2 linked regions of the Homo sapiens genome follow. The protein of the gene in region 2 purifies or fractionates together with the protein of the main gene of each other region. This does not show direct contact. Each region holds a gene or a part of one and is shown on either strand. Other genes may lie near its edges.

Region 1 (5,092 bases), on a different chromosome or scaffold from region 2:
GATGGTGTCAGGGCCAATGATGTAGATGACCTGGAGATACCACTGGTGTCCTGCTTCCACCTGCAGGGGGACAAACCGAACATGTTGTTGTTGCCCACAGACCACCTCTGAAGAAAGGAAATGGAAGGATAATTGCCACTATATGCCTTGATAGATAACTGATTTCCAGAAAAGCATTAGCAATGGTTGGTGTCTACTAATACATAGAGAACTGAACCAGATATGGGTTCTATTTTATTTCCAAATTAAGATGATCTTGAGTCAGCTATTCGGATTCTTTTTTGTTTCCCTATGTGTACATGGAATAGCCTAAGAAATTATCTTTCATGGTCTCTTTAGCTAAGTGAATGCTTATATTTGTCTGTCTTTATTGATAGCAGTGAAATAATAGCATTAAAAACCACATTTATTTACAGTGACCTTCAATTATGTGTTATGCCAATTTACTATTTATTGGTGAACTTCAGCGAAAATGGAGTCATTCAACAAAATATTCACTAAACATATACTCTGTGCATAATACACAGATACGTGACAAACATTTTCTAAACACCTTCTCAATCAGGCTATATCATCAAGTATTTTATCTCCCCCTCATCTTCCTCCATTAAAATGCTTCATGGTTTCGAAATAACTTCTGAAGCATGATAATAGTTCTGAAGGGTCATAGATTAATATTTAGAGACAAAAAAAGTGAAATTTCATCTTGAAAGTTCATGTTCATTGCTAAGACTTAAGGTATTTGTGTTTATCAAATAGTAATTCTTGCTATTCTAAATTGCTGTATTGTATTATGATTTTTTAAATGTTTTTCATATGTCCGTGAAAATCAGCTGGGCTAGCATAGAACCAAAAAGGGATGCAATATAAAAGAACTTAGGAAAAACTGGAGTGTCATATGCAGCCATGATGTGCACAATGACAAGTGACTATATGCAAAGTCAATAATTGTATAATTGTTTTGGTCTACTGGGGATACATGTGAAAATTTTGGGTGGGTGATAAGCTTAACAATAAGAAAAGATCTGCCAGCAAGAATGGCAGAATGTTGAAGAATCCAGAGATGTTGCAGTCCTCCTTCTTTTTTTTTTTTTTTTCAAGCTTTAAAGTAGACTTGGTCTTAAGCTTCTGTTCTTCTCACCAAACTCACCTTATAGAGTGCATCTACTTTTAGAGTAAATCCATCCACACCTGGCATGTTACTGACCACATGGAAATCAGGCAACTCAGAGGCAAAGTGAGCCTCAAAAGGCACATCATGGAAGTACTTATCAGTTACCTCTGGCTGATTGCGGTCCTAGGATTTCAGAAAAAAGAAATGCAAGATTTAGAAAGATGGTTCCACTATATTGGTAGGTGGCAGTGACTGGGAGGAGAAAAGTACTCATCACTCCTGGCTTTAGGTTGAGTTGAGAGAGTATGTGCTGTGAAGCCCTCTCCATAAGTCAGTGGCTGCCTGATATGGTTTGGCTGTGTCCCCACCAAATCTTATCTTGAATTACAGTTCCCATAATCCCCATGTGTCATGGGAGGGACCCAATAGGAAGTAATTGAATCACGGTGACAGTTACCTCTATGATGTTCTTGTGATAGTGAGTGGGTTCTCATGAGATCTGATTTTTTTTTTTTTTTTTTTTAGATGGAGTCTTGCTCTGTCGCCCAGGCTGGAGTGCAGTGGCGCGATCTCAGCTCACTGCTGGCTCCACCTCCTGGGTTCATGCCATTCTCCTGCCTCAGCCTCCGGAGTAGCTGGGACTACAGGAGCCTGCCACCACACCAGGCTAATTTTTTTGTATTTTTAGTAAAGACAGAGTTTCACTGTGTTAGCTAGGATGGTCTCAATCTCCTGACCTCGTGATCCGCCCACCTCGGCCTCCCAAAGTGCTGGGATTACAGGCTTGAGCCACCGCGCCCGGACCTCTGATGGTTTTTTAAGAGGCTTTTTCCCCTCTGCTCGGCACTTCTTGCTGCCCCTATGTGAAGAAGGATGTATTTGCTTCCCCTTCTGCTATGATTGTAAGAGGCCTCCCCAGCCATGCTGAACTGTAAGTCAATGAAACCTCTTTCCTTTATAAATTACCCAGTTACAGGCATGTCATTAGCAACATGAGAACAGACTAATACACTAACTCTGGGAACCCACTGTCCTTTTCAAAAGGACATGTGGTGGCTTTTGTGATCTCAAAATGCAAAAAGTGGGATATTCTAGCCCAATACTTCTCAAGTTATTTGGTCTCAGGACCCTTTACACACTTACAAATCAAGGACCCCAGAGAGTTTTTGTTTATGTGACTTATATCTATCGACATTTACTCGGTTAAAAATTAAACCTGAAAAAATTTTAAGTGTTTACTTATTAATTCATTTTAAACTGACAATAAGAAACTCATTACATGTTAACTTAAGTAAGATATTTTTTAGTGAAAATACCTAAATTCATTCCCTTCCTCAATAAAGAGAGCTGGCAATGTTTTACATTTTTGTAATCTCAGGGAAAAAACTGGATTCTCATAACTGCTTCTGAATTCCATCAGTTGTGATATGCTGTTTTGTCTAAAGTGTATGAAGAAAATCTGGCCTCATAAAGCTATGTAGTTAATAGCTTTTTCAAACAATTATGGCTTTTTTTTTTCTTTTTTTTTTTTGAGATAGGGTCTTGCTCTGTTGCCCAGGCTGGAGTGCAGTGGTGCAATCTTGGCTCACTGCATCCTTGACCTCCCAGTCTCAAGTGATTTTCTCACCTCAGCCTCCCAAGTAGCTGTGACTACAAGTGCATGCCACCAAGCCCAGCTAATTTTCAAATATTTTTTTGTAGATATGGGGTCTCCTTATGTTTCTCAGGCTTGTCTCAAACTCCTAAGCTTAAGTGATTCTCCCACCTCAGTGTCCCAAAATGTTGGGATTACAGGCATGAGCCACCACGCCCTGCCTCTTTTTTGATACTAAATCAAAACTTGGTGAGTGGTTATTTTTTAAAGATTCATTACAATGTGGAATCTGAAATTTTATTGATAAACTTTTTAAACTCTCTAAACTCATGAGGGAATAAGTATGAAAAAAAGAGTCATCATCATATTATTTTGAAAGTAATTTTGACTCTGTAGACTCCCTGAAAGAGTATGGGGACACTCCAGGTCTCTGAACCATACTCTGAGAAACATTGGCCGAGAGTTTCCTTTTCTGAGGACATCAATGGAAGTTTGTCTTGTTACTCATCGTAACTACCACCTATGTACTAGTATTTAGCTGATCTGAAAGAAACAACAACACAAACATATATAGAGAAGAAAATATCAAGAGTGAGCTCTATCTACTTTAGGCAGAAGTCATAGCTGAGGAAATCTGCTCAAGTGTCTGCTCTTTAACACTAATAGTGAGAACTTAGCATACCAACAGCAGGAATCTGTGTTTTAGGTGTTTGTTTGGCTGAATGCATCCATACTGGGGCCCTTCATTGTAGATTGTCCCCGTGGGATCAAAGAAAGGCACATAACCATCCTTGCCCGTACAAAGATAGACTTTCTCCAGCTGGAGTTTGTAAGCAGAATTAAGATTTTGTTCTGGATTCCAAAGTACTCGGCCATAAAGGATTTGACCTGAAAAGATTGAAAGGTATTAATTAGGTCAGACTTTAAGATGAAAGAAAAACAAATGTCAAGGGTTGAAAGGGGTTAAACATGCTCCCTTAAGAGTGAAAAGCACTTTTCTATGAAGAGCTCCATGATTCCATGTGCCCCTAAAATACTCATTCATTTATTGCTTCGTTTTTATTCTTATTTTCTTTTTTTCTCTGAGTTTTCTTGCTAGGGAACATTTATGCCTTCTTTTTTTCAATAAGCATTAATTAAGCATTTAAGGGAAGCAAAGTATTCTGTTATGCACAGGGGATACCAAGGTGTGTGAGATGCAGTTGAGAGGATGGAAACAAACTCACAGTGATTGACTAAAATAGGCTCATATTTATCAAACTCATACTATTTTCCAGGTACTGTACCAAGTCCTCTCATGTAATAACTCATGGAGTGCTCACAATTTTGCAGATGAGAAACCTGAGGCACTGAGTGGGGCTAAGTGATTTGCTGAAGGTCACAAAGCAAGCAAACGGTGAGGGTGGGATTCCAAGTCAAGGTACTATGCTCTCAAACCAAACCACCACAATACTTTATTAATCACCCAAATGCTATACTGTTACATTCCACAATAGAGGAAGGTATGTCATGTTAAGAGAGCATGAAACCAGGTACAGAAATCTGCCTAGGGAATGGTATGGAAGGTTTCAAGAGACATGATATTTGAGCAGTATCCTGAAACACAAGTAGGCATTTGTCAGACAGTGCATTTGGGGTGGGAGTGAGAGGCAGGAGAGAACACTCTAGGCAAAAAAAAAAAAAAAAAAAAATCCATGTACAAAATACTGAATGCTTCAAGGATGTAAGCCCTGGTGTAGGCCGTTTCCTATGTGTCGGCTATGGCACCAAGCTCTTTACATGCAACTAACTTACTTAATCCTCCCAAGAGCCCAAAAGATAGCTTCAATTATTATTCCCATTTTTAAGTAACTTATCCAAGGTTCCACAGCAATGATGCAGTGGGAGGAGGATTTTGGAATTAGCACAAATCTGGCTAATTCCAAATGCTCATCCCAAACATTTACTATGTGGTGCTAAGTAAGTCAGTGTGACAAGAGTGGAGGGTGTGTAGAAGCTCTGGCAGGAGAGGCTCCTGGGGACATAGACAAACCGTGCTGAGGAGGCTGGACTTGAATATATAAGTAATAAGAAACACTGGAGGGTTTTAAGCGGAAAGGTAGTAACACACTTGGGCCTTAGAAACATGGCAAATGGGTCAAGGACAAAGAGACTTAAGTCACAGAGACCTGGTAGGGGCTATTTTAATCCTCTAGTGAGAGATAGGCACCTAAAATATAGCTGTGAGGCAAGAGGATGAACTCAAGAAATGTCTAGGAGTCAGACTCCACTCATCTTAATGATAGATGGGACGTAGGATGTAGGAAGGGGAAGTTGAGGATAACCCTGAGATTTTTGGTTGGGGCACATAGAGGATGGTGACGCAGTCAGCAGGGTAGCAGATG
Region 2 (5,092 bases):
GGAATGATCCCCTCTGGGAGTTTCCCATGCAGCTTTGGAGAATTTGGGTTTTACTAGAGATGGTGTTTTTCAGCATGCTTAAAATATGGGCAAGGTTTATGACTGTTCGTCTGTACCAATGCCAAGGAGTGATCAGGGAAAGGAACCAAAGGAGACCTAGAGAATGAGAAGTTAATGAGGACTGTTCAAAACCGAGGGGGTGTCATGGGCCAAGAGCCAGAGAGACAGAGTATGAACAGCTGGAGCAGGACAGACCAGTGATGAGACTATGAGGATGAGGTAGGCAGGGTCCACACTGGCCCTTGTAAAAGCCATTTGATGATACTTTATCCTAAGAGTCCACTGAAGAGCTTTCATCAGAACAGGAATTCTTTCCTAAACCAGGCCTTCTAGCTCCCATAATAATGAGACCCCAGCGTCCTTCTTGGCTGGGGTCCACCCAGCCTCCCTCTCGGCAGTCCATCCTCCTCCTTGTGACCATCCCACTGCTCTCACCCAAGTGCCATCCATAGGCAACAAGAAGGGAGACAGATGAGTGAGTGCCCTTGCTGCCACCATGAGCCTGGCCAGCGGACAGCTTTGAGTCAGAAAGCAAAACCCTGTGTATGTGTGTTCAAAACACAGCCACATATACCTTTGAACCTGAGTCCATGTAAGTCCTCAAAGTCAAACAACTTGGTGTAATAAATGGTCCACTGCTTATTCTGAAAGCAAAATAAATACATAAAGCTATCTTCAACCGAATTACTCCAGCATGCAACAAGTCAAGGGTCACAGCTTTCCTGGCATTGCAGCCTTCCTCTCCCTATGAAAATACTCCCATTAACTTGATCTTCGTGGCCCTAATTTTGCTCCCTTTCAAAGAGACAAAAAGAAGGAAAAAAAACACTCAGTAAGTCAATAAAAATTATAAATTGTTTTTCTATTTGAGAGAAGCATGGGAGTCTCTTAAGCACAGGGCTCTAACATTCCTCCATCCCCTCATGTTGCATATATGAAAAGAACTGTGTTAACACAGCCACTGTGGAGGCCAAATTGGCAGGAACTATTAAAATTGAAAATGCATATTATATAATTATAATAATATAAGAGTATGTAGTAGTATATATAATATGATATGGTATAATGTGACCTATAGTATAGTTGTTAAATATATTTTAGAGCCAGGGTGAAGGGGCTTAAATACAGGCTGTATTCCTTGCTAGCAGTATAACCTTAAACGAGTTACCTCATTTTTCTAAGCCTCAGTTTCCTCAGCTGTAAAATGGAGATGACAATAGCACACCTCCCTCATAAAACTGAGAGAATTAAATGAGTTAATGTAAGTTAATGACTTAGAATAATGCCTGGCACATAGTAATCACTCTATACTTATTAGCTGTTTAAAATTATAACCTCATGAAATACATAAAAGAAATATATATATTATATATATAATATATATGTAAATATAATATATATATATTATATATAATATATATTATATATAATATATATTATATATTATATATTTATATATTATATATAAATTATATATTTATATATTATATATTTATATATATATATCCTCCAAACCATCAATCCACAGTAATAAAAGGACTTGGTTTGTCTCACTGTGGCCAGGGAGAAGTAAAGTTAATAGAGACAAGACATTTCAAGGTTCCAAGACTCTTCCCTTAAAGGTGGGGATGAGTTAGGGGTCCCCAGGGGGAGCTACCCAGTCTGCCAATGTGGTGGGAGGAAAGCCAGGGGGGCAGTCAGGAGACTGGGTCCCAGCTGGAGAAGGTGCTCCTCTGACAGTTTTATATATATATTAAGTAGAAAGATCTCTAGTACGCATTGTTGAATGGGAAACAAGCAGAATACTATATGTGGTATTATGTGGTATTCCATGATGTTTAATGTTCTACTATTCATGTTTCTAAGGGAAAAACTACTATAAATTTGCTATGGATACCTATGTATGTAAATGTATAGGAAGAAAAGGATTTGGAGAAGGGACTAGAGTTAGAAAAAGTAATCAGAAAGGATTTTACTCTTCTCCGATTTTAGATAGAGAGATAGATAGATAGATGATAAATGATAAATAGAAATGGATATATCATAGATATACAGAGAGATACATACATGGACATAGAATGTATTCATATACTTGTAGCTTTTAAAATATAGATAAAACAGGCCAAGATGGTACAAATTGTTATTCCCCTTGTATAAATAAGAAAACTAAAGCTCAAAGGTAGCCCATATGTGCCTAGGCACACACAGCCAACAAGCCCCAGAGGAAGGAGTGGAGCTCAGATCTGCCCTCCCCATTGCCTTTCCACCACTCCACCCTGCCTCTCAAGGCCACCCAGGAGTAGACTATGACAAAAGGTAGAAGAAGGGGCCTCCTTGTCCATACTGGCTGGAATGGTAAAAGCCAAGTGCGATGGAGAATCGTGTTGTTGTTTTTGTTTTTAATTAATGAACCTGTTGGAATGTGCCATTCAGCAGTGGAGCTGAATGGTTCCTGCTGTTCATGCAAAACAAACAAAAATCCCTCCACCCAAGCTACTTCTGTGGCCACTTTTCTAGCCTTATCTATCCAGGGACTGTGAAAGGGACACAGAACTGTCAGAGGGGCACCTTCTCCAGCTGGGACCCAGTCTCCTGACTCCCCCTGGCTTTCCTCCTACCACACTGGCAGACCGGGTACCTCCCACTGGGGAGCCCTAACTGATCCCACCTTTAAGGGAAGAGTCTTGAAGCCCTGAAATGTCTTGTCTCTATTAACCTTACTTCTCCTTGGGCCACAGTGAGACAAACCAAGTCCTTTTATTACTGTGGCTTGATGGTTTCAAGGGTCTTTTCCAGATCTAATAGCCAAAGAACATTAGAATTTTCCTCTATGATACACTAGAATAATAATAAGCTCTCCCTCCCTAAAGATGATGTTTAATTAAAACCTCTGGCCATTTTGGCTATCTTCATATTTTTAAAGAAAACCCAGATGTAGAAGAAAAGCATTCTTCAAATGTTAACCATCCATTCCATCTCCTGGTCACCTTAGAATGTCATGTGTCAATGAAAGTTGAAAGGTTTTTGAAGCATGGTATAACTGATAATACGTTTTAGCTTTATCATTTAGCAACTGGGTGGCCTTGGACAAGCACAGTCTCTTCAGCCTCAGTGTTTTCCATCTGAAAAATGGGTGCAATACCTACTCTTAAGGTTGCTGTGGGGGGTCGGGGGAGGGGGTGAAAGAGATGGCATTTGGGAAGTGCGTGCAACCAGGAGGGGCCTAAGACATGTCTCTTCCCTCCTCCAGCTGGATAGCAGCTCTCCTCCTTCCATGGTTCCAAGACATCCACAGCCTGGGTCCCCCAGACTTGCCCTACCAAGTGCTGGCGCCTCTCCAAAGTCTGATTCTTTCTATTTTCCTTAAGTTGCAAAGCCCAGTGTTGAGGTGTAATTGTGTGTAAGAGGGAGAGGGGATGGATCTGGTTTCTTTGAAAATGGCTTCTTTGCTAAAACGACAACCTCAGATCTGATACTGAAAGAATCTGCTGGCACTGGCCCCTGTCAGAACAATTTGGAGCTATCCAGGGGCCATCCTCTGGGGCTGGCAGCCGGCCCCCCAGCTGAGCCTCATGCTCAAATTCCCAACAGGCTCAGAGGCAGGCCCCGAACACACTTCATCCTACAGCCCCATTCCTCCCATGCAAAGGCGGCAAGAGAGAAGGAGAGAAGGGCTTGGCATTCTGAAGCAAAATTCTCTTTCTCTGCTGCAACCCCCCTCAGCCCTGCCAGCCACCTTTGCAGAAGCCACACACGCGCACACACACACACACGCACACACGCACATTTTCAGAAAGCCCTTGGCACAGCCCACCCCTTCCTGAGCTGGACAGAGCTGCCAGGGCAGATTTGCCCGGGCCGAGGCCGCCTTCTTCATCTCCAGCCCCCTCCCATTCCTCTTCTAGAGTCAAGGTTTTGTCAGGAGTTTCAGGGGCAATGACTGGCCAGGGAGGGGGACCACAGACATCCTGCCTGCTGCCAAGTCCCTTTCTTTCCCCCACAGTGTGTCTTATAAGCCGGCATGTAGTTTATTCTTCTCCTAAACACTTCCATAGGGTGCAGGGCCTGGAGTTGCCATAGAAACACCTTTTAACTCCTCCTCCCCCAGAATGCCATGCCAGGCCCTAGGACTTTGGGGAAAAAAGACAAAAAGAGACACCTGTGGATGAGCAGAGACAGGAGGAAAGGCCATCGGGCAGCCCCCCGGAGAGGACCAGGCCAGGCCTCCTGTGCCTTTTGCTAGGCCAACATGGCACCAAGCCATGAAGAGAAAACCACCATGATGGTTTTAAAACAGGAAGTTGATGGGCTGATGTGAACACCTTTAGGGGGCTACAAAGTTGACTGGTGGGGTTGTGTGGGTCCCAAGGAATGGGGAGCTCCTTCATATTTGTTTGAGGGCGAGAATAGACAGTTTCAACCCAGACTGGAAACCAGAAAGGCTCTGAGCAATGAAACTTGGGAGCCAAGTACTGGACGCCAGCAGGGTGCTGTGCAAGGCGAGGGAGGTCGGCAGGCAAGCAGCTCACACCCACACCTCCCATTTTAAAAGCATTAGCTCATCCCTGCCACTAGTGCAGCTCACCAAACCCAGGCAGAACAATTTGGGATCCGTGCCAGAGCATCGAAGATTTTTTGTTTCTTTTTTTCTTTTTGATTCCACAATCTCCTGGTCTTTGGCTACTTCCTGGTAACTTAGATTTTCTCTGAGAAATTTATGAAGAGGAGCGAGGGAGCTATTTCTTGTTTCAATCCAGAGAAATTGTAAGAAACTTTCTGCATTGCTCAGACCCACCGCAGGAAACCTAAGCAGTAAGCAGACGGGAAGGCCCCCATTGGAAGCAGGATCTACTCATGCTTGTTTTCACTTTTCCGTGGTCAATTTTTAGGGTAGAAACCCCAAAGCAAAGGGCAAGGGGGAAGAATGGGGACCTACTCCCACTACATACCAAAAAAACGCAAGTGAAGTCACCCAGCCCATTTTCCAGCAGAAAAGGACTTGGGCTGCACCCCTGCACACCCTGATTCCACC

What was found. The genes of interacting proteins can lie anywhere in the genome.
Region 1: the proteins of TIMP3 (region 2) and FRAS1 purify together in Homo sapiens (affinity purification with mass spectrometry; one large-scale study listed by BioGRID and IntAct). This does not show direct contact.

The regions. Positions count from the first base shown.
Region 1 is NC_000004.12:78,535,499-78,540,590, reverse strand, and holds part of FRAS1 (extracellular matrix organizing protein FRAS1 isoform 1 precursor), read right to left. Parts: intron 3,597-5,092; coding exon 3,391-3,596; intron 1,298-3,390; coding exon 1,151-1,297; intron 61-1,150; coding exon 1-60. UniProt on the Homo sapiens protein: Involved in extracellular matrix organization. Required for the regulation of epidermal-basement membrane adhesion responsible for proper organogenesis during embryonic development. Involved in brain organization and function.
Region 2 is NC_000022.11:32,803,768-32,808,859, reverse strand, and holds part of TIMP3 (metalloproteinase inhibitor 3 precursor), read right to left. Parts: intron 1-5,092.